Regions from separate parts of the Homo sapiens genome. Here region 1 is linked to region 2. Evidence: fine-mapped QTL for protein levels in blood plasma. A gene starts in region 2. The other region holds a variant in brackets. All regions are shown on one strand. Distances are from middle to middle.

The links. PIP is the posterior inclusion probability: the model's chance that the variant is causal. Protein levels are from antibody-based Olink assays in UK Biobank. Linkage for the fine-mapping came from a reference panel and not from the study's own genotypes, which makes the PIPs less certain.
Region 1: its variant is fine-mapped to the plasma level of the BANK1 protein (UK Biobank, PIP above 0.99). The variant lies in the coding sequence of BANK1. If it changes the protein, the assay may bind it differently, which can mimic a change of level.

What each region holds. Positions count from the first base shown.
Region 1 is chr4:102,041,898-102,046,302 of GRCh38, forward strand. It overlaps BANK1 (B cell scaffold protein with ankyrin repeats 1), which reads left to right. Exons shown (of 17, transcript NM_017935.5): 11 at 1,942-2,010. Among named protein-coding and RNA genes, the nearest start is that of BANK1, 250 kb to the left of the region's middle. The variant T/C (reference allele first, on the strand shown) is at 1,989.
Region 2 is chr4:101,788,738-101,793,142 of GRCh38, forward strand. It overlaps BANK1 (B cell scaffold protein with ankyrin repeats 1), which reads left to right and starts at 1,993. Exons shown (of 17, transcript NM_017935.5): 1 at 1,993-2,213. The coding sequence starts at 2,144. RefSeq lists a silencer at 2,080-2,269.

The sequences.
Region 1 (4,405 bases), 250 kb after region 2:
GTGTAAAGTGATTTGTAACAAATTAATGCCAAAAAGCTGGAAAAATAATTTCATTTCCAAGTACTTTGTAGCTTCAAACCTCAGCAGAATTTTAAAAACTTATCAATTAATGTAATTTTTATTTGAAGAATTTATTATCTGAATAGATCTTTGGATTCAGGTCATTTCCCATATGAATGACGCCAGCTTTTTCCTCTTAACCATTCTCAGTTATATCTTAACAATATTGGCAAAAAAGCATAGAGACCACGTTATTAAAATTTTTAAAGCATTGCATTTTAAAGACTTTTAAAACTAGCAAATAGAAAAAAATCAAGTACCTCTTACAACATTTATTTTAATATCCTAACGTATAGTCATACATTATATATTCCTCAATATATTTTATTTTAGAAAAAATGTAAGTAAGCCACAAACCCAGAACTTGCCAGTTAGTTATATTTAGCATGTTTTCCATGTACTAACTTGAAGCAGAAAACTGGTTTTCAACCAAAAATATGATTTTATGTGTATACTTTTTCTCAAACACGTCAAACTTTGAAACATATTTTGCCTCTTCTGTTTAAAAGAGCACAGTTGAAGGGAGTACTCTTTGTCTTGACAGCATCTGGCAAATCATACATTTTTAATTACTAATTTTTGATCAGATGGGGGGAAATTTTCATCTAAAAAACGTCTCCGGGGTTAATCACAGATATGTCCTTGATCTTATATTGGTTTAAATAATATAAAAACCAAAGACAGAAATCTAGGATAACTGTCGGGATGTTTCTGCCAATCACAGTGGTCCAGCACCATCCAGTTAAAACACGTTCACTCCCACAGGCCTCAGCTCAATTATCCCAGGAAATTCTGTCGAACTGCTAAAAGGAACAAGAGATACAACTGTGTTGGAAATGTTCTAATTTCCCTTTTAATCCTCTCCCTCTATCTCCTTCTTTACCTTTATAAGATAATAGTTATGGAGGGGAAGTGGCAGTAGTGCTGTAAGGAACCACGCAATAGATTGAAGTTCAAGGCTTCTCGGTTTAAATCACATCTCTGCTAACAACAACTCTGAGATCATTGCAAAATTACTTAGCCTTTTTACAAGCTAGTTACTTCCAACTCCCTCATCTATAAACATATGAGGTTGGACTAAATCTCCAAAGCCTTTTCCAGTTCCCAAACCCTGTAATTCACACTGCCCATAAAAAATAAATGTAACTCTGGGATGTTCATTTTCTAAAGTAAAGTTGTAAAGAGTCTGGACTTTTTTATTAACAAATGCCAGAAGCTATATGGAACTTTGTGGGTCCTCAATAAATATCAAACAATCAACTTTATCTTTCATCTGCAAAATGGGGTGAGTAATGCTGACTTGTCTCCCAGAATTTCGTGTGAGAAATAATAAATGAGAACAAAGCACTTTTCAGATAATGAAGTAATTCGAATAAGCTGTTTTAATAAGTCTGCGGTCTAGATAGATGATGCAAGAATAAAGTGTCTTTTTTATTATTACATCTCTGAAATACAAGAGTCTTTTTACCTATTTAAGGAGAAACAGTCATTATCCTTGCTTATCATCAAAAAGTCAGCATGGGTAATTTCTGTGCAAATGGAATTTTTCATATGATTTTAACATTTATCGCTTTTAACACAATGCAGCTTTTATTCTTACCTGATATCAAAATGGAATCATATCTTGATTTAAATAGTTTAATGAGGCATTGCATCAGCATTATACTACTCTGCTCAATGAAAATGCTTTCTGAAATGACTGATAAGCTGCACAAATGAGAAAATTGTAAATTTGATAATCTTCCTACTCAAAAGTAATACAATTCAGGAACTGATACTCAGGAAAATGATATATTGCATTCTGGCTTCCTGGAGACTTCTACAGTATGGATTTTTTGAACGTTTATGTTCAGTAAATAATATGTTCTATACTTTTTACAGTGTTTCAACAAAAGACAGCCAGAAGACAATCTGATGATGACAAGTTC[T/C]GTGGTCTTCCTAAGAAACAAGGTACTAACACTAACTTCAATCTATTTAGTAATCTCTAGGTAAAATATCAAGAAATCTTATGAATACAGAGTAAAGCCTCCTAGGACAGAAGTATGTAATTGTGTGCTTTATAAATCTTACTCTTTTTTTTATTATTATTATACTTTAAGTTTTAGGGTACATGTGCACATTGTGCAAGTTAGTTACATATGTATACATGTGCCATACTGGTGTGCTGCACCCACTAACTTGTCATCTAGCATTAGGTATATCTCCCGATGCTATCCCTCCCCACTCCCCTCACCCCACAACAGTCCCCAGAGTGTGATATTCCCCTTCCTGTGTCCATGTGATCTCATTGTTCAATTCCCACCTATGAGTGAGAACATGCGGTGTTTGGTTTTTTGTTCTTGCGACAGTTTACTGAGAATGATGATTTCCAATTTCATCCATGTCCCTACAGAGGATATGAACTCATCATTTTTTATGGCTGCATAGTATTCCACTGTGTGTATGTGCCACATTTTCTTAATCCAGTCTATCATTGTTGGACATTTGGGTTGGTTCCAAGTCTTTGCTATTGTGAATAATGCCGCAATAAACATACGTGTGCATGTGTCTTTATAGCAGCATGATTTATAGTCCTTTGGGTATATACCCAGTAATGGGATGGCTGGGTCAAATGGTATTTCCAGTTCTAGATCCCTGAGGAATCGCCACACTGACTTCCACAATGGTTGAACTAGTTTACAGTCCCACCAACAGTGTAAAAGTGTTCCTATTTCTCCACATCCTCTCCAGCACCTGTTGTTTCCTGACTTTTTAATGATTGCCATTCTAACTGGTGTGAGATGGTATCTCATTGTGGTTTTGATTTGCATTTCTCTGATGGCCAGTGATGGTGAGCATTTTTTCATGTGTTTTTTGGCTGCATAAATGTCTTCTTTTGAGAAGTGTCTGTTCATGTCCTTCGCCCACTTTTTGATGGGGTTGTTTGTTTTTTTCTTGTAAATTTGTTTGAGTTCATTGTAGATTCTGGATATTAGCCCTTTGTCAGATGAGTAGGTTGCGAAAATTTTCTCCCATTTTGTAGGTTGCCTGTTCACTCTGATGGTAGTTTCTTTTGCTGTGCAGAAGCTCTTTAGTTTAATTAGATCCCATTTGTCAATTTTGGCTTTTGTTGCCATTGCTTTGGTGTTTTATACATGAAGTCCTTGCCCATGCCTATGTCCTGAATGGTAATGCCTAGGTTTTCTTCTAGGGTTTTTATGGTTTTAGGTCTAACGTTTAAGCCTTTAATCCATCTTGATTATCTCAATATTTGCAGAAAAAGCCTTTGACAAAATTCAACAACGCTTCATGCTAAAAAATCTCAGTAAATTAGGTATTGATGGGACATATCTCAAAATAATAAGAGCGTATCTATGACAAACCCACAGCCAATATCATACTGAATGGGCAAAAACTGGAAGCATTCCCTTTGAAAACTGGCACAAGACAGGGATGCCCTCTCTCACCACTCCTATTCAACATAGTGTTGGAAGTTCTGGCCAAGGCAATGAGGCAGGAGAAGGAAATAAAGGGTATTCAATTGGGAAAAAGAGGAAGTCAAATTGTCCCTGTTTGCAGACGACATGATTGTATATCTAGAAAACCCCATTGTCTCAGCCCAAAATCTCCTTAAGCTGATAAGCAGCTTCAGCAAAGTCTCAGGATACAAAATCAATGTACAAAAATCACAAGCATTCTTATACACCAACATCAGACAAACAGAGAGCCAAATCATGAGTGAACTCCCATTCACAATTGCTTCAAAGAGAATAAAATACCTAGGAATCCAACTTACAAGGGATGTGAAGGACCTCTTCAAGGAGAACTACAAACCACTGCTCAAGGAAATAAAAGAGGATACAAACAAATGGAAGAACATTTCATGCTCATGGGTAGGAAGAATCAATATCGTGAAAATGGCCGTACTGCCCAAGGTAATTTATACATTCAATGCCATCCCCATCAAGCTACCAATGACTTTCTTCACAGAATTGGAAAAAACTACTTTAAAGTTCATATGGAACCAAAAAAGAGCCCGCATTGCCAAGTCAATCCTAAGCCAAAAGAACAAAGCTGGAGGCATCACGCTACCTGACTTCAAACTATACTACAAGGCTACAGTAACCAAAACAGCATGGTACTGGTACCAAAACAGAGATATAGATCAATGGAACAGAACAGAGCCCTCAGAAATAACGCCGCATATCTACAACTATCTGATCTTTGAGAAACCTGAGAAAAACAAGCAATGGGGAAAGGATTCCCTATTTAATAAATGGTGCTGGGAAAACTGGCCAGCCATATGTAGAAAGCTGAAACTGGATCCCTTCCTTATACCTTATACAAAAATCAATTCAAGATGGAT
Region 2 (4,405 bases):
CTTACAGTTTTCAACGCCCAGATTCTTCATTTGTAAAATATGGTTAAACCTTCCTTGTTTTGAGAACCAAATGACATGAATATTGTGAAACTCTTACATAGAACATAGGATATAGAATACTTAAAAAAAGAGTAGTTGTTGACTGCAAACAGTAAAACAAAAGAATAAATAAGTCAGTCAATGGGGTAGTCAATGGCTATTTTCTTATTCAAAAGAAAAGTGAAGCTAGAATAATTTTAATGGGAGATTTTAAAGATTTTCTAACACATAATCTTATTTTTTTTAAAAAAAAAACAGCCCACAATTTTCAGCAGTTTTTACTTTCTTTTTTCTATTTACTAGCATCATTTGACATAAGTAGTGGAAATGAGCTTCTGAAAATATACTTAATTTTCATATTATAAATCTTATTTTCTATAGTTTTATTAGGAGACAGTGTTATAACATTTTATATCTGGCAGAAACTCGAATACAGTAATTTTAATTTATTCATTAATAATGAATAAATTAGATGAGATACGCAAGGCTCAGAAATATTAAGAATTGCTCCAAACACCCAGATATTGTGGAGCAGAGTCAGGATGGCAGCTGCAACCTTCTGACTTCCAATCCAGGGCTCTTCATACAAGAAGGCTGTCCTGTATATGTGACAGATACAAGTTCCTATCTGAACACTGTCTTTATTAACAAGTTTTCGTGTGCATAAATGGGTGCCTTTGAAGATCTGGATACTTAATTGGGGAGCATCATCTGGAGTGTTCATGTTGGCTAAAGTAGCTCTTGTCAGGAATACGTATACCAGCAGATGCATCAGTTAGAATATTCTTTTCTCCAATGGGTTTAAGACATACTTTCCTAAGAATTGAGTTTCTGAAACACTGAACAACACCCAAACCCTGCAATCCAAATTTGTTTTTGCCTATTACACTGAAGTCTCTCTGTTAACAGGCATATATAGAAGACAACCATTTTTTTCAATATAATATTTCATAAGTTAGATGAAATCTTTTGTTCCATTATATAAAGTTCAGAAAATCAACATAAAATTAATAATGATGTTAAAGAAACTACTGGAAACCAGATAAATACAATACAATCTATAATTGTTTTCAAGTTTTTTGGACATTTCGCATACTTCTCCAAGTTTTCTACATTATGTTATAAAGTTCTAATAAGTTCATTTATGTGAAAAAATTAACTTTTTTTGATACTTGATATTTATATTATTACTAAAAAGCACTTCATCCGAGAGAAAGTTTCAAAGAAAGCCTTCCTTTTATAGGAAGAGGAGAGGAACATTTAAACTATGTATTATTACCAAATTGATATTCAAAAAATATATTCAACTTCAAAAGGCAAATGACTAGTTTAGACATGCTTGAGAGAGAGACATTCACTTTAAGGTTCTGGGACAACTCCTTTGATATATCTCCATCTTAAAAACAAGCAAACAAACTCTTGTTTGGAGAGGGTATTTAGAGCCATAAATAATTTTTTACTGGGTCTATTTTTGAGTTGGAGCAGGAGTAAGAAATACATTTTATATGGAATTTTAAATCACTTTTCAATTTATGAACCTAGCCTAGAAAGTCTGTGTAAAATGAAATATTTTAAAAGTTACAGTATTATCTGTATCTTCATTTCTATATGTATGTATCTATCATCTGTGTACCTACTCATCTATCTATCTAATTATTCTTTCTTTCCAGCAAATGTTCACTTCTGGTTTCCCTACGTCTGCCTGGAAGTGGGGGCAGTATGGCAGTATGGAAGACCTAGAAAGGGACAAGGAGAGCTACAATAACAGCGGTCTAAATATATCCTAGGATGAAAAGGTGAGGAAGGAAACAGGCGCAGAAGTGTTATAAGAAACCAAAGCGGCCTTTTGAGAAGGGATGTAAGAGCAGGCCCCTGAGCAGTTTCACTTCCTCTGGGCGCCCAGCAGAGCGGAGCCCTGGCCTTGCGGGCATGAGCCCCGGGGCTGCGTTTCCTGAGACCTGGCCGCAGCCTCCGCGGGTGGCAAGCGGGCTGGGGAGAGCCGAGGGCCAAAGGAAGAGAAAATCGCGGGGAGTCTCTGGCCGGGAGAGTCCAGGTAGCGCTCGGCGGGCAGCAGTGCGCAGGCCCCTCGGCTTCAACCGCCACAATGCTGCCAGCAGCGCCAGGCAAGGGGCTTGGGAGCCCGGACCCCGCCCCCTGCGGCCCAGCGCCCCCAGGTGGGTAGTCGCGCATTCGGAGGGGCTTGACGCCGAGGCCGGGCTACGGGGCTCTGCGGAGACCACGGGCCATCGTTAGACAACTGCACTCGGGCACTGAGGCCAGGGCGTCCCTGAGACAGGGCTTCTCCTTTTTATCCTGCCGCCAGGCAGCCCAGAGGGTTCTTCTGTCCCTGACTTCTCTGAGGGGCATCTGGACGCCACGAGGAGGGAGCGCGCTGGGAGTTCTGGCCAGCGGGCTACCCTCAGTGTCTGCAACTTCTGAGGAGCTGGAACTTTCCCCAGCACCCGGGTCAGGGTCCTGTAGTTTCTAAAATCACTTTGCAACCTGTTTTAAAGCAATGCGCGTTTAAAATTATACGTAATTATTTTCAACAGTCGGTAAGCACAGAAAAACCGCTCATGTGTAGCGTCACGCATTTACCTGCCCGGCCTGACAAATCCCAGCCTGGTGAATTGGTAGCCCTGCTTCTTGGCAGGTGGCTTTGCAGAGAAACTCTACCAACACCACCTCCCTACTCCACTGGCTTTACTAACTTGGTCAAAGGAAAACGGTCAACTTGGTTGAATGCAGAAGTAGATTTATATTTTCAAATGGACGTTAAGGCAGTTTTATTTAGTTCTTTTTGAAGCATTTCAAATGCATTTGCAAATTACTCAGTGATATAAAAATGTTTTTTAAATTAAAAAACTTCACTTAGGTATTAATATTACTGGAGTGTTCGTGGTGAGAAATGCAACAAGAAAGTATATTCTGAGTGAAAGTTTCTTAATTTGCTGAATAGAAATAAATTTCTCATACCTTTCTAGAATTTTTTAGGTAATGTAATTTTGGTTGTAGCTATTTCTGTTGGCTAGTGCATTTTTACATAAATAAGCTTTAGGGATTGCTTTCAGTTAAATAAGAAGTATATTTGTGTCAATGAAAAGTGACAAGAAAGGACTTAGAGCCCATAACTTAATATTATTAATATTTTAACTATTGCATATTGACATTCTTGAAAACTGTGGCTCTGATGGTCTTCAGCAGAGCAGACTTTGCTAGCATCTATAAATAAACCAACCATGTCTTTCAAACTTTGAGCAGGTTACCTCTTTTGTAATTTCAGTTTAACAATTTTGTTAGAGAATGGGGTACAGTTTGTTTCAAACTTCTAGATTAAACAGTTTAGGCAGAAAATGCCTTTTATTTCACTTGATACTAAGCAATACTTTGAGGCACTTGCTATTGTGAATAATGCAAGAGTAATGTGAATCAATATTTATAGCATTCCAATTATTCTTGTTCCTCCCATGCATTCCGCTCCCCCCCCGCCCCGCCCCTCCCAACTCCTTGGGTCCTTCTCCATGCAGTATTTATCACTTGCTTCAGTTACTTCCTTTTCTGGCCAACATAATGAAACTTTTCTAAAAACGAATTGTCTTTTGACATTATCCCATGCCCATATTCTTGATATGAGTAATCTTCTAGCTTTTATAAATCCAGTGGTTTGTGTGTGTGTGTGTGTGTGTGTGTGTGTTTTTTTTTTTTTAATGAAGAGCTCCCTCTCTCTCCAACAACTATCTTAATATGGCACATTGGGGGTCAATTGGTCCAACTGCCTCATTTAGAGAAGAGAGCACTGAGATCCAGAGTGTGAGTTGCTCATGGTTTCATAACTAGTAATTATTTGAAGGTCACCCATTCATTAACTTAACAAACTTTTATTCCCTGCCAAGAGTCATGTAGTAGTAATAAGAATGTAAAATGGTAAACACAGTTTCATGCCCAGGAAGGTATATTTCTAGCAGGAGATAGAATGTACTGCTAGACAACATTAGTGTATACTGCCATCAGAGATTTATTAACTGTTGAGTATCGACTTGTTCTTTAATGGAAGCAAGAAAAATAGAATACCCAGTTCTCTAAAACAAGGTAAAAATGATGCACAATGGGTGAAAGTTCTAGTTAGAATGTATTTTCTGGTTTGTATTTAACTATATATTACTATCAATGTCCAAAAGAGAGATTCTTCCTGTTGTATTCCAAAACTAATGATTTTAAAAATTTAATTTTAACTGCTGTTTTAATTAGGGAGTGATTATTTATTAAATCACAGATTTTTCTCCACACCATAGTTTTTTTTAAATTTTTATTGATATTATTGGATGCATCTGATGAAACTTTAATAAATGATTTGCTTAAGAACAGA